Linked DNA regions of Homo sapiens. The protein of the gene in region 4 purifies or fractionates together with the protein of the main gene of each other region. This does not show direct contact. Each region holds a gene or a part of one and is shown on either strand. Other genes may lie near its edges.

Region 1 (3,500 bases), on a different chromosome or scaffold from region 4:
GTTTTTTCTAAGACAAATATTGTAGAAGAAGTAATATTTTGGTATGAAGTTTCTGTTTAACCCCCCGACCCCAATTTTATTTAAAACATTTTTTAAATAAGTCATTTTATTCACATAGTATGATCATCAGAAAGTTTTTTTTTCTTTTTTTCCAGAGACAGGGTCTTGCTCTGTTGCCCAGGCTGGTCTTGAACTCCTGGGCTCAAGCAGTCCTCCTGCCTTGGCCTCCGAGAGTGCTGGGATTACAGGCATGAGCCACTGAGCCTGGCCTAATTTATTTTTATTTATTTTTTCTGAGACTGAGTCTCTCTCTGTCGCCCAGGCTGGAGTGCAGTGGCAAGATCTTGGCTCACTGCAAGCTACGCCTGCTGGGTTCAAGCAGTTCTCCCTGCCTCAGCCTCCGGAGTAGCTGGGATTACAGGTGCACACCATCCCGCCCTGCTAATTTCTGTATTTTTAGTAGAGACAGGGTTTCGCCATGTTGGCCAGGCTGGTCTTGAACTCCTGACCTCAGGTGATCCGCCTGCCTGGCCTCCCAAAGTACTGGGATTATTATAGGCGTGAGCCACCACGCCTGGCCACCTGGCCTAATTTTTGTATCCCTTTCCAGTTCTTCGTGTATATACAACCTAGTGCAAATATGGTTTACGTTTCTCTCCCATTTGTACCCAAAGGGGAGCTCATTATGTACTTACTGTGGCAGCAACAGTGAGTTTGCTTGTTTTCTGTTAGAGTCTTGAAGTATTCCTTTGTACAGAAGAGCCACAGTTCATTTCCCCAGGAAATGCCATATTGATGCACTTTAGACCATATCCAGATTTTGGCGTTCTACACGAAGCTGCAGGAAACAACTTGTTCACCTGTTTTGTTTTTGTTTTTGTTTTTGAGACAGAGTTTCGCTCTTTTTGCCCAGGCTGGAGTGCAATGGCGTGATACTGGCTCACTGCAACCTCCGCCTCCCAGGTTCAAGCAATTCTCCTGACTCAGCCTCCCTAGTAGCTGGGATTACAGGTGCACGCCACCATGCCCAGCTAATTTTTGTATTTTTAATAGAGACGGGGTTTCACCATGTTGGCCAGGCTGGTCTCAAACTCCTGACCTCAGGTGATCCACCCGCCTCAGCCTCCCAAAGTGCTGGGATTACAGGTGTGAGCCACCGCGCCCGGCCTACTTGTTCACCTGTTATTTCCCACATATGCAGGTCTGTTTACTTCCTGGAAGCCTGTTTGCTGGACTAAAGCAAATGTGCATTTATAACTTGGATAGCTACTGCTGAATTGCGTTCCTCTTGAGTTGTAGCAAATTGTGCCAGTTGAGACCCCTAAGGGCAGTATATACAAGCATCTTTACTAGACATAGGCTTTATTCCTAATGCGACGGGTGGTAAATGGTACCCTAGGGTGAAAAATAGTGCCCTGGGGTGCGTTTTGCTGTGCATTTCTCTTATTACAAGTGAGGTTGAGTAGCTCTGAAAATACTTAAGCCTTTTGTCTTTCCTTTTCTGTGCACTGTCTGATCATATCCTTTGCCCCTTTTTCACCAGTTGTAATTCTTAGTGATTTCTAGAGTCTCTCTATATATGAGAGAGATGAACTTTGTATTTGGAGTTGCAACTGTTTTCCCCAGTAAGTCATTTGGCATGTGACTTAATTTGTGGATTGTGTGTGTGTGTGTGTGTGTGCGCACTTTTGATGAGAATGAAATTAAATTTTTTTAATTTTTTGGTATCTTTAAGCTTTTTATGTTTAAATGACTTCAAACACATAAAAAGTTTCAGAATTAGTACAGAGAGCTCATAGGAGTTCTTTACTCCTCAACTAGATGTATTAGTTATCTATTGCTATGCAGGAAATTACCCTCAAAACTTAGCAGCTTCAAACAGCAAGTATTCACGTGTCTCACACTGTTTCTAAACATTAGGAATCTGAAAGCAGCTTAGCTAGGAGGTTCTAGCTCTGGATCTCCCATGAAGTTGTGGTCATCTGAAGGTCCCACTGATCTGGAGAACCTGCTCCCACGCTCACTTGTGTGGCTATTAGCAGGAGGCCTCAATTGCTTCCTCAGTGGGCCTCTCCAAAGGGCAGCACATGACACACAGCGGTTGGCTTCCCGCAAAGTGAGTGACCCAATAGAAACAGACAGAATGCTCAGGATGGGAGCCGCAGGCTTTTTATAACTAATCTTGGAAGTGTCATATAATCACTTCTGCCAAATTCTATTGGCCACAAAGACCAGCATATGGGAGGGGACTGAACACAAGGAGGTGAGGATTGTTGGTGGCTGCCTCCCACGTCTACCCATTGTCAGCCTTTTGCTACATCTGCCTTGACCTTAGCATTCTCATTCTGTGTACACTTTTTTCTGAATCAGTTGAGAGTAAGTTGCAACCATTATACCCGTTTGCCCCTTAATATTTTATTTTATTTATTTATGTATTTATTTATTTTTGAGTCTGAGTCTCACTCTGTCGCCTAGTCTGGAGTGCAGTGGTACAATCTTGGCTCACTGTAGCCTCTGCCTCCCAGGTTCAAGCAATTCTCTTGCCTCAGCCTCCTGAGTGGCCGGGATTACAGGCACACATCGCACCCTGCTAATTTTTGTGTTTTTAGTACAGATGGGGTTTCACCATGTTGACTAGGCTGGTCTCAAACTCCTGGGCTCAAGTGATCCACCTGCCTTGGCCTCCCAAAGTGCTGGGATTGCAAGCGTGAGCCACCGCGGCCAGCCTACCCCTTAATATTTTAGTATAATATTTCAGCCTTGGAGAACAAGGACATTCTCTTACTTAACCATCATACTGCAAAGAAATAAAGCAGACAGCATTGACATGATACTGTTGTCATATCCTCTGTCCATAATCCAACTTTACCAGGTGCCCAGGGATCCTGTAATGTTGTATTATTCTCCTATTTCATGTAGCATTGGAGTGCCGCTGCATGTGGGCCACCTCCCTGAGCCCTTGGAACCTACTGAGTGGGCCAGTTCTCTTTTCTCCGACTCAGCGACGCACCTGCCATTGGCCATTTGAGTCATTTCTCCTTTTCCTCTATTGTAAATGCTCCCAAAGTGGGCAACCCCATAGCAAGTACTTGAATATTCTTTTTTTTTTTTGAGACGGAGTTTCACTCTTGTGCCCAGGCTGGAGTGCAGTGGCGCGATCTCATTTCACTACAACCTCCGCCTCCTGGGTTCAAGCAATTCTCCAGCCTCAGTCTCCTGAGTAACTGGGATTACAGGTGCATGCCACCATGCCCGGCTAATTATTTTTGTATTTTTAGTAGAGACAGGGTTTCATCATATTGATCAGGCTGGTCTCGAACTCCTGACCTCTGGTTATCTGCCCGCCTCAGCCTCCCAAAGTGCTGGGATTACAGGCGTGAGCCACCGTGCCCGGCCGAATATTCTTCATCACAGATTCCTGGAGGGGAATTTCCAGGTCAAAGTTGTGACCCTTTCAAAGTCCCCAGACCAAGCTGCCTTCCAGGAGGCAGTCCCACCAG
Region 2 (3,902 bases), on a different chromosome or scaffold from region 4:
CCAAGTTCTTCTAGGCTGGTGCTGAGCAGGACTTCAGGCAGCTGGGCCACGGCCCTCGAAATAAAGAAGTGAACCAACACTCAGCAAGAAGAACAGGGACTGTTTGCACTGTCCATTTGTGGCTCATTTATAATACTTTCTTTGCTTCCTCAAAGGTGAACAGACATGGGAACAGGTACATGTGGTTTGATAGGAAATGAAAGATTTCCAACAGTTTTAAATGGATGGACTTCAGGGCAAAGGCTGGCTTCTTTTCATAAAGGAGGTAGTTAATAGCTTACATTGTATGAGACTGCCCATATGCCCTTAAAAAAATCATTCTTCATTATAACTCTGAAAAAACAGCTTAACTAGTCTTTGAACAGGCCACCTTCATCAGTAAAACATGCTTCTATATCATTCTCTTCCTCGAACAAAACACTGTGAATAGCTATTGCTGAGCAGACGCCGCCCAGTATCTCTTATGTGACATTAAAAAAATCCACTCAAATACCAACAGATTCAACTTTATAGCACCATTCCAAAATACTAAACTTTCTTTGCACCTTTATTTTTTATCTTTTTTTTTTTTTTGGTACACATGTAAAGTCTGGGCATCCTGTAAATTTCTGAAAAGCCTCATAGAAAAAAAAAAACCGACTAATTTTTAGGACAAAGCAATAACTCAGTTTATAGGCAAGATGATCTCAAGCAGGCTGTAAATTCTTCGTGGGCTTCTGTAAATCTTGATTCGGGGGTGAGAATATGGAAAGGAGGCTAAAGTCTTCCTGGATTAGTCTCTAGAGACTGTGTTGCGCATCAGGATAGAAAAACTTGTTGCCCAACGGTCAGACTCTGCGTATCGGTTACAATGCAAACCATAACAACAGTCTTTTGTTAATTATTTTACTCTTCTGATTGACAAAGGAATTGGAATACTGGATATGTTCGGAGTTTGTATACACCTTTTATTTGTACTCTGTAAGAGAGAAATTAGAATAATATTGAATTCCCTCTTACAAATCTCCATATTTGAAGCTTGGAGCACTGAAATCTGTTCTTAGCAAGCAGATGTATTTAAAGCAGAATTATAAATGGGTCTTTAATTCAACATATATTTGGTTGCATTGTTATGTAAGAAGACTGTTTGACTCAGTAATGTGGGAGTTGACAGATGAGAGACTGTTTGCAGAAAAGATGATTTTTTTCCTCGTGACACTGGAGAGTCACGTCTCACAATGACTGTAACTGCATGTTCTTGTCTAACTCTTCCATATATTACTGTGAGTAATGTGAACCGACACAATGTATGCGAGGGGCTGGGGATTCTGAGTATACTGTGATTGGGAGAGGGAAGAGAAGAGGTAGAGGTCCACTAACAGCATAATTATGCAGCAGTTTCAAAGAAATCGATTATTACACAGTAACAGTCAATGACCCAGGAAGAGAAAGTTTAAATTAGAAGTGACTAGTATTAAAAAGCTACTGTGCACCAGGTAGGAAGGAATATGAGAACCATAATATGCCCTGAAATAGAAATCATCACTTTGCACTATGTACACCACATACAATATAACAGATTCTTTTTTAACATTGCACAGTATAAATATTATACACGGTGGAGTAAACTAAATGCAAAATAACTCTGAGGCACACAGAAGAAACAAGGAATAGATTGAACTTTGATTAAACTAAGATGGAGTTAGTAAAAGGCAGAATGTTACATTTTCAGGCCAGTTAAGCTTCTGAGATCTCACCTCAAGTGGGTCAGCAGCCACCTCCCATAAATACTGAAAATGATCATACCTCAATGTCGTTAGAGTTAATTGCTTCAAAGAAAGACTAATTAGCTAAGTAATTTGAGAAAATCAAACTGTTGCTCCCCACTCTAAAGTAGGTAACCCCTAAAGGTCTCTTCCAAATGTAGGGTTTTATAATGTGAATACACTGCTGCATTCCCCTATTTCTTGTAAATAACTTGATTACTAGGAAACCACTTTAAGGAAACTAGAACAGTATTCAAGAACACCCATCACAGTGCTTAACAAGATTTAATGTACATTTATTCTTAACATGTGGAACATATAAAGATTTTATACTGAATAAATGATATTCATTAAGCCAGAGGAAAAGGAGGAATTTACATCAAGTTTTTTTCTTTTTTTTTTTTTTAAACTACATTATCTTGAAATACAAATGTGGATTCTCATCACTGAAAAATCTTTGAAGTTGTGTTTCTTCCTTTTAGTTGTATTTTTTTCATTTTCTCTTTTTTGACTGTACTGGTAACCATTTTCTAAATCAATCCATATATAACCATTTCCACACCTTGATTCATGAAGCAAATTGTGATCAGCTGCTCTCCTGAAATCGAGCATGACTTTATACATACAGAAACTTGTACATTACCCTCTTTTTTTTTTGTTTTTGTTTTTTGTATTTTTTCTTTCTTTTTTTGGAGATATGGCCCTAATGAAAAAATATATAAAATAAAAATAAAAAATTATTTAAATCTACCATCACTTCGTAGTTACCACATCATGAAAAAGAAACTAAAACTTTGTACTAAAAAAAAAAAAAAAAAAGAAAAGAAAAAAATGAGGGTATGTTTAATGTACAACTTCTATATACATCACAGCCCATAGGCAGTAAAAAAAATATTTAAAAAATGATGAAAGGAATTGTGAAGAACTGTCACGTGGAAGGTCAAACGCCGACAGCAGGCATGACGGGAGTGGTGAGGAGCAGTTTCCGGATCGTTGTCAGGTATGTATTCTCAATCTTAAAAAACATTGTTTTTGCTCCCAGCCTAATGGAACCATATTCCTGTGGAGAAACCAGTATCATTTCATAGTTTTGACTACTGACCGACATACCTCCTTGAGCCCCTATACCTGTATCTGTAGAAATTTCTATTGCACAGAACTTTGGGTGATGGGATGCAGTTTTTTTCATTCTCTGAGGAGTAAAACGCATAGGAAATGGATAATTTTTCACCTTTTTGACTCAGTGTGGTGAAATTTTCGCATCTTAGCATCTTTTGCCACAACTTTTTTCTTTAAAGTCAATTTGCTTCCCCCAAAAATGCAATACAACATGGGAAAGAACATTAAAAAGATCTGTGAAGAACAAAAAGTGACCTTTGAATGCACTAGACAGCAACTTTGGTTAAAAAAAAGAGAAAAAAAAAACCCCAAAGGATGTACTTATACACACAGACAGCAAATATTAATTTCATAACTGTTCAAATTAATTATTTCTTTAATTCCCAATTGGTAAATAGTGAATGGGGCAGAGGAGCAAAGATTTTCTTTTCCTTCTTCCTACGCTGGATAAACAAGAACAGAAAACAGCCAGTTATATGTGACCCTCTAATCTTCACTCACACATGCTTGCCTTCTCACTTATGTCATAACTGCCCAATCTGAAACAGTACATCACAGATGACAGATGCAACCAGAGAGTTCAGGACAGCTGATATCGAGATATCCAGCAACCGGCCCTCGTGCAAAAGGAATTCCGAGCGGTTTTCGTCCACTCTGGCCATGGCTAGCAAAGCCTTGGCCGCCCTGCACATCATGTCTACGCTAGGTGGTTCCAGGGGCGGGGGCTGCATGTGCATGAGGTTGTGCTGGCTCTGCTGGTACTGGGCCATCGTGACCCCATCCTCTAGGAAGCTTATCAAGTTTCCAATGCTTCCTTTCTGCACAGCTATGGCCCTTGCTGCTAGTGCGTCCCCTTGGGCAAGGTTCGATAAAAGCGCCATGGACATTTCTCGACAGACTGGGTTTTTGCGATCCCCAACGTACCTAACTAATGTAGCATAGAATTTCTCCTGACGACTAAATGGAGGAGTGGCCAAGATCAGGTCCACATTATTGTCCTGGATACTGAGTTTACAGAGGGTCTCCAGCACAAGTCTC
Region 3 (3,500 bases), on a different chromosome or scaffold from region 4:
ATGAGCCTTGGGTGGGTTTCTCCTCAGCCCTAGTGACCCCTAAAATTACCCCCCCGACCCACCCACTGTCCCCTGATGCTTCCCCCACCCCCGGAAAAAGCTGTGGCCTCCCTCTCATTTGGGGCAGGCTGCCTCCTGTTCTCTTTTTCTGGTGTTTCAGCAAGGCAGGCCAGTGGAGGTGAGGTGACCAGAAGATGGCTAAAGGGAAAACAAAATGGTGGGCCTCTTTTTGGGAAACTGGGCCAGGGTTTGGGGGCCCTGTGCTGGTGGAGGAGAGAAGACCCCAGGGCGATGGTAGGAGACGAAAGCTTGGGCTGCAGCGTAAGCTTGGAGGCCCGCTGCGGTGGCTCACGCCTGTAATCCCAGAGCTTTGGGAGGCTGAGACAGGAGGATTGCTTGAGCCCAGGAGTTTGAGACCAGCCTGGGTCTCAAACCAAAAAAAAAGAAAAAGAAAAAAAAGAGCCGGGCGCGGTGGCTCACGCCTGTAATTTCAGCACTCTGGGAGGCCGGGCAGGCGGATCACGAGGTCAGGAGATCAAGACCATCCTGGCAAACATGGTGAAACCCCGTCTCTACTAAAAAAATACAAAAAAATTAGCCAGGCGTGGTGGCGGGCGCCTGTAGTCCCAGCTACTTGGGAGGCTGAGGCAGGAGAATGGCGGGAACCCAGGAGGTGGAGCTTGCAGTGAGCGGAGATTGCGCCACCGCACTCCAGCCTGGGCAACAGAGCGAGACTCCATCTCAAAAAAAAAAAAGAAGAAGAAGAAAAAAGAAAAATTAGTCTGGACGCAGTGGCTCATGCCTGTAATCCCAGCACTTTGGGAGGCCGAGGCAGGCAGGTCACCTGAAGTCAGGAGTTGGAAACCAGCCTGGCCAACATGGTGAAACCCTGTCTCTACTAAAAATACAAAAAATTAGCTGGATGTGGTGGTACACGCCTGTAATCCCAGCTACTCTTAAGGCTGAGGCAGGAAAATTGCTTGAACCTGGGAGGCGCAGGTTGCAGTAAGCCGAGATCGCGCCACTGCACTCCAGCCTGAGCAACAGAGCAAGACTCCATCTCAAAAAAAAAAAAAAAAAAAAAAGAAGAAAGAAAAGAGAAAAGGCCGGGCACGTTGGCTCACACCTGTAATCCCAGCACTTTAGGAGGCCGAGGAGGGAGGATCACGAGGTCAGGAGATCGAGACCATCCTGGCTAACAGTGAAACCCCATCTCTACTAAAAATACAAAAAATTAGCCGGGAGTGGTGGCAGGCGCCTATAGTCCCACCTACTTGGGAGGATGAGGCAGGAGAATGGCATGAACCCACGAGGCAGAGCTTGCAGTGAGCCAAGATTGCACCACTGTACTCCAGCCTGGGCGACAGAGCGAGACTCCGTCTCAAAAAAAAAAAAAAAAAAAGAAAAAAATTAGACAGGCATGGTGACCCTCGTCTGTAATCCCAGCTACTCAGGAGGCTAAGCCTGGAGGATCACTTGAGCCCAGGAGGTTGAGGCTGCAGTGAGCTACGATTGTGCCACTGTACTCTAGCCTGGGTGACAGGGTGAGACCTTGTCTCAAAAAACAAACAAAAAAAGTAGGCTTAGGCCCAGGACCCCTTAGCACCTGGTCTGAGGGTTCCCTCAATGACTTGCTGTGAGGACTGAGAAAGGTCTGTGCCTGAAGAGCTCCCGTCTGTCCCAGGAGAGGTAGAGGTTTGGGCCTGAGGCCTCCCTCACCTCAGCTCCTCCAGAGGTTTCATCATGGAGACATTCCTACTGGGCACATGGCAGGTCAGGCAGACCTGGGCCTAGCTAGGGTGAGGCCAGCCATGGGCCAGGCCTCTTGAGGTGACAGGGACTAGCCATGAGGAGTGAGTACAAGGACAGGGAGTAGAGCTTTCCTGGAGGGAGTCAGCAGGGTCCCCTTGAGTGGTGGGTAACCCTAAGATGGTCTTGTTGGCTAACCCTTGGACCTGGACACAGGAGAACATTCGAAATTGGCCTTAGCCTGGAGAATCTGGGATGGATTCTTGTAGTTTATATAGGAGTCCGTGCTGGGGAGGAGCAGTTGGGGCTATATTCCTACTGCTGGGACCTCATTTTTTCCTTTCCTCCCAGAAGCTCAAGTGTAATGGGAAGGGAAAGGTGTTGAAGTCAGGGTAAGGTGACGGGGCCGCCAAGACAGGAGGCGCGGGGCACACCCAGGGCCAGCTTTGCAGCAAGTTGGGCTGCAGCCTGGTGGTTGTGGGGATTTCTGCACCTGGTGCTTACAGGTGTCAAGAGTGAGGGCATCTGAGGGGGGCCAGAGAGCCCATCTGGGGCAAGCTGTCGCTCCCTGGGGCATGTGGGCCCAGGTCATGTTTTCAAGAGTAGCCAGAAGTCTGGATTCTTATGCAAAGCCTGTTTTGTTGTTTGTTTGTTTGTTTGTTTGAAGTTTGGCAGCAGATTTAACATTTTTAAAGTACTGTGCAGGCCAAACAAAACACGCCTGTTGACTGGTTGTTTGCCATCCTAAATATAAAGTGGGGCCCATGTGTGGTGGCTCACACCTGTAATCCCAGCATTTTGGGAGGCCAAGGCAGGAAGATCACTTGAGCCCAGGAGGTCGAGGCTGCAGTGAGCAGTGATCGCACCACCGCACTCCAGCCTGGGCAACAGAGGGAGACCTTATCTCAAAAAAATAACAAATAGGCTGGGCACAGTGGCTTATACCTGTAATTCCAGCACTTTGGGAGGCCAAGGCGGGTGGGTCACCTGAGGTCAAGAGTTTGATGTCAGCCTGGCCAACATGGTGAAACCCGTCTCTACTAAAAATACAAAAATTAGCCGGGCGTGGTGGCATGTGCTTGTAGTCCCAGCTACTCAGGAGGCTGAGGCAGGAGAATCGCTTGAACCCGGGAGGCGGAGGTTGCAGTGAGCCGAGATTGTGCCACTGCACTCCAGCCTGGGCCACAGAGCAGGAGTCCGTCTCAAAAAAATAAAAAAAATAAAAAAATAAGAAAGTGATGAGTATAGCTTAATACCCTCATTGGGGAAGAGGAGCAACGCCCTTTTTTGGGGAGGGGTATGTGTTCTGTGGTGATGGTTTTGGGGGGCAATTGTGGGAAACCTCAGCTGCTCCGCTGAACCCGTGTGCCCACCCAGTGTGTCTGTGGCTGTGAAATCCCATGTCCTCCTGGGTGCTCACTTGGTGCCTTAAACTTGAGCTCCATGGCCCCTCCGGGTGGCTGCTTAGCTGAGCATAGGTCCAGCTCAGAGGTAGAATTCTTAATGTTCTTGCCTCTGTCCCAGAGTCCCCTCAATGTCCACACCTAGAAATACAGTTTCTCATCACTGGGGTAACTTGAGAACTCGGTGAAGAGGTTGCCAGTTGGGGCAAAGAGAGGCACGAAAGCCTGGCTGCATTCAGCTTGTAGCCTGCGGTGGCCTCGAGCCTCGCTGGGAAGCAGCTGCAAACTTGCATCTTGGCTGATTTGCGGCCGCAAAGCCCAGATCTCTGGCACACTTTCTGCCCTGAA
Region 4 (3,900 bases):
CTTTGAATAAGAATAAAGCAGAGTAAGTGGGGGGAGGAGTGCTATTTTATACATGGTATGTCTGATAAGGTGATATTTGAGTAGAGACCTGGGGTAAGGGAGCCAGCTATGCAGTAGTAAGGCATAGTGAGATAAGTAAGACAGAGAAAGCATCAGGTGGAAAAGCCCCCTAGTAGGAGTGTGCCGGATATCTTCAAGTCACAGAAGGAGGCCACTGTGGCCAGTATTCAGTGAACAAAGGTATAGCCATAAGAGGTGAGATCAGAGGGGGACTGGAGGCCCCCATCATGTAGGGCCTTATTAGGACACAAGAACAGCTCACCTTTACCTGAATGAGATGGGAGCCTTTGGAAGGTTTTGAATAGACATATAACATGATTTTGATTTAAATTGTACAGTAATCTCTCAGGCTGTTATGTGGAGAATAAAGTAGGTGCGCAAAGATAGATCTGGGAGACTAGGTGTCTACTGCAATAGTTCAAGCAAGAAATGATAGTAGCTATGAAAGTAATCAGTAAGAATGGGTGAGAATCTGACTATATTTTCCTTAAATATGTTAAACAAGAAGGTTGATAACACTGAATCATCCAGTCAGTGGATGAGCCATTCCACTAGAGTGGGTAAATTATTTTCCAGTTTTTTGTTCATGGTCGGTAAAAACAAGCCTCTGATTTTTGCCTGTTTTTTTGCCCATAGGTACCAGCATGTGTTACATAGAAATCTCATTTATTTGGCTACCATTGCAGATGCCAGTCCAACCAGCACTTCAAAAGCAATGGAATAATCTTTCAAAAGCAATAGAATAATCTTCCATTTGGCTGTCGTGAGGAGTAATTGAATGTAATCCATCTCTTACAAAATGGAGACAGGGTCTTTACCAACTCAACTGGTTAAAACATGAATGAAACCTCTGTGGCTCTTTCGAAACGTGAAAATGTGAAGAAAGCTACTAACTTAGCTGTATTCTCATGTAAATATTTTTTAAATAATTAAGCAAATCCCTCAATAAGTTGAGCCCAGGTGTCCTCTTTCCTGAACTTGGAGCATGTTTGGATAACAAAGACATCACTGGGATGTTCAAGTCTACTTTTTAGTTTCAACCTGAAGAGGAAACTCAGTAGGTGTTGGGCAGGAATTGGTGAGATTCCTGACTTGATACCTTGCTAAATGGACATGTAACTGTGTGCTCCTTCCTATCAGTTTGTAAATGTGGTCCCCCTGACTGCTGTTTTCAGATTGCTTTGAAATAAAGCTTATTTTTCTATAAAATACTGATGTGGAGGTATAGAAGTTTTCATGTAATAAGTATTCCATTTGGTTTTCAAGAATAACTGTGAGGACTTAACCATAAAGTATATAAAAACAATACTATTATCATTGCCAACAAAATGAATAGTGATTTCTAATTATTATCTAATATCATCTGATAATAGATGATGTTTAATTTTCTTCAGTTATCAGATAGTCTTTTTGTTGATTTGTCTGAACCAGAATCCAAATAAGATTCACATGTTGTATTTTGTTGATGTTCCTTTAAGTCACTTAAAGAATACTTAATAGTTCCTTTTTTTCTTTATTTGTTGAAATAACTAGGTGTTTACCCTAGAATTCTCTCGTGTTCTACATACAGTTGTATCTCTGTAGTGTTGTTAATTATGTGCCACTATCATCCACTTTTCCTGTAAACTAGTAGATCTAGAGGCTCATGCAGACTCATGTTCTAATATTTTTAGCAGGAATATATTAGAAGGTGATAAGTACTTGCTTTTGCATCACATAAGGAGTGACCTGACTTTTAAGTTCCCAACCAGCCTTTCACTTAAATTATGATCCACCCAGCTTTGATGTGGTAATTCATTAGGGATTACATAATGAGGATTTTCTAATTTATCATTCTTTCTGACTTTATTAGCTGTATTCTATAAAAAACTTTCACTCTTGGAGATTTATCTGAAAGATGAGGCAAAGGGATTCTTGTAAGTATATCCAAAATTAGAAGCCCAGGTCCCTGCTCCTTTTTTTGGAGTCAAGGGTTGCAACCTAGGGCAACTGTAAAATACATGTAAATAGTGAAGAGATAACTCATTTTGAATCCCAGCTCTATCCCTTAACCTCTGAAAGCTCTGTTTCCTCACCTCTAAAGTGAGGATAATGAAAATAGCATCTGCCTCCTGAGGTTGTGAGACTGAGATAACGTGGTTGAGAACTGGGCACATGTTAATCTATGTTAGCACTAATGTGCTGAGGGCTCTGGCTCTTTCTTTTTTCTTTTTCTTCTTTTTTTTGGTTTTGTTTTGTTTTGTTTTTGTTTTTGTTTTTTTTTGAGACGGAATCTCGCTCTGTCGGAGTGCAGTGGTGCAATTTTGGCTCACTGCAACCTCTACCTCCTGGGTTCAAGTGATTCTCCTGCCTCAGCCTCCCAAGTAGCTGGGATTACAGGCATGTGGCACCATGCCTGGCTAATTTTGGTATTTTTAGTAGAGACGGGGTTTCTCCATGTTGGTCAGGCTGGTCTCGTACTCACGACCTCAGGTGATCCACCTGCCTCAGCCTCCTAGAGTGCTGGGATTACAGGCGTAAGCCACCGCGCCCAGCCGATCATTTCTGTTTTCTAGAAAATTATTTTGTCTGTTTCCCCACTAGCATTCCTGATGGTTTTCCAGAGTCCTATCCCCTGAAGTTCTAATTGCTGGCATAATCACACTCTAAAAGGCTGAACCCCAGAATCATTACCTGAAAATTCGTACTACCAGTGGTTCTTCTTCATGATAAATCATGGACAAATTAAGCCTGAGTTTGTAAACTCTTTGGATACCAACTTTCTACCACTCTTGGAAGAGATGGAGGAGGTGTCAGTCATTTTGGTTGATACTAGCCCTAGGCCTGCCTTGTCCCAGGAGTTTCTTCACCTTAATCACAGACCAAATTGCATACTTTTATCTTCGAATCATCTAAAATATAATTTCAAATCACAAGACAGAATAAAATAATCTTTGAGAGAGGCAGAACCTTAGAAAGGAGATATTTTATCTCATTTATTTTACAGATGAAGAAAGTAAACTTCAGAGAGATCAAAGTGATTTGTCTCAGGTCACATAACCAGTGGCAGAAAGAAGAGAATTGCTGGAATGTCAAGATAAGAATGAATTCTAGGTTTAAAGTTGTTTAAGTATATCCCAAATTAAATATTTCATTCCTGAGCTCTAAAACCTATTTACATTGAAGCCTGATGTCCTAAACACGGTAATTACAAAGCTGGGTAATGGTCTCCATCCTTTCCTTTCATGAATCCATGTATGAAAGTTAGCTTTATCAAACTATTTCATCTCCAGAAAGGCATGTACATTTCATACTGTTCAAGTCTGTAATTGTCAGCAAAATCAGACCCAAGACCGCTAGCTTCTCAATTCAGCCTACAGACTGCTCCTCTAATAGACACACTGGACTCTCAGGGAGGTAGAATGGGCAAGCTCTAACAAAGGACAGCACTTCTGTGATGGTGTGGAAGTACCAAAGGTTTGACTGTACTTTAAAAAGGTGACATGGACGGCTGGGTGCAGTGACTCATGCCTGTAATCCCAGCACTTTGGGAGGCCAACGCGGGCAGATCACAAGGTCAGGAGATCGAGACCAGCCTGACCAACATGGTGAAACCCTGTCTCTACTAAAAATACAAAAAAATTAGCCAGGTGTGGTGGCGTGTGCCTGTAGTCTCAGCTACACTGGAGGCTGAGGCAGGGGAATCGCTTGATCTCAGGAGGCAGAGGTTGCAGTGAGCCAAGATCGTGCCACTGCACTCCAACCTGGGCGACGGAGCGAGACTTTGTCTCAAAAAAAAAAAAAAAAAGGTGACATAGGTGCAGAAACAGGTCAGAAATGATCTAAGTCAAGCTTGTCCAA

The links. The genes of interacting proteins can lie anywhere in the genome.
Region 1: the proteins of SS18L2 (region 4) and BICRA purify together in Homo sapiens (affinity purification with mass spectrometry; one large-scale study listed by BioGRID and IntAct). This does not show direct contact.
Region 2: the proteins of SS18L2 (region 4) and ARID1B purify together in Homo sapiens (affinity purification with mass spectrometry; one large-scale study listed by BioGRID and IntAct). This does not show direct contact.
Region 3: the proteins of SS18L2 (region 4) and BCL7A purify together in Homo sapiens (co-immunoprecipitation; 2 studies listed by BioGRID and IntAct, with this or other methods). This does not show direct contact.

The regions. Positions count from the first base shown.
Region 1 is NC_000019.10:47,689,134-47,692,633, forward strand, and holds part of BICRA (BRD4-interacting chromatin-remodeling complex-associated protein), read left to right. Parts: intron 1-3,500. UniProt on the Homo sapiens protein: Component of SWI/SNF chromatin remodeling subcomplex GBAF that carries out key enzymatic activities, changing chromatin structure by altering DNA-histone contacts within a nucleosome in an ATP-dependent manner.
Region 2 is NC_000006.12:157,207,378-157,211,279, reverse strand, and holds the end of ARID1B (AT-rich interactive domain-containing protein 1B), read right to left. Parts: coding exon 3,389-3,902; 3' UTR 501-3,388; downstream 1-500. UniProt on the Homo sapiens protein: Involved in transcriptional activation and repression of select genes by chromatin remodeling (alteration of DNA-nucleosome topology).
Region 3 is NC_000012.12:122,024,884-122,028,383, forward strand, and holds part of BCL7A (B-cell CLL/lymphoma 7 protein family member A), read left to right. Parts: intron 1-3,500.
Region 4 is NC_000003.12:42,593,726-42,597,625, forward strand, and holds the end of SS18L2 (SS18-like protein 2), read left to right. Parts: intron 1-696; coding exon 697-784; 3' UTR 785-3,209; downstream 3,210-3,900.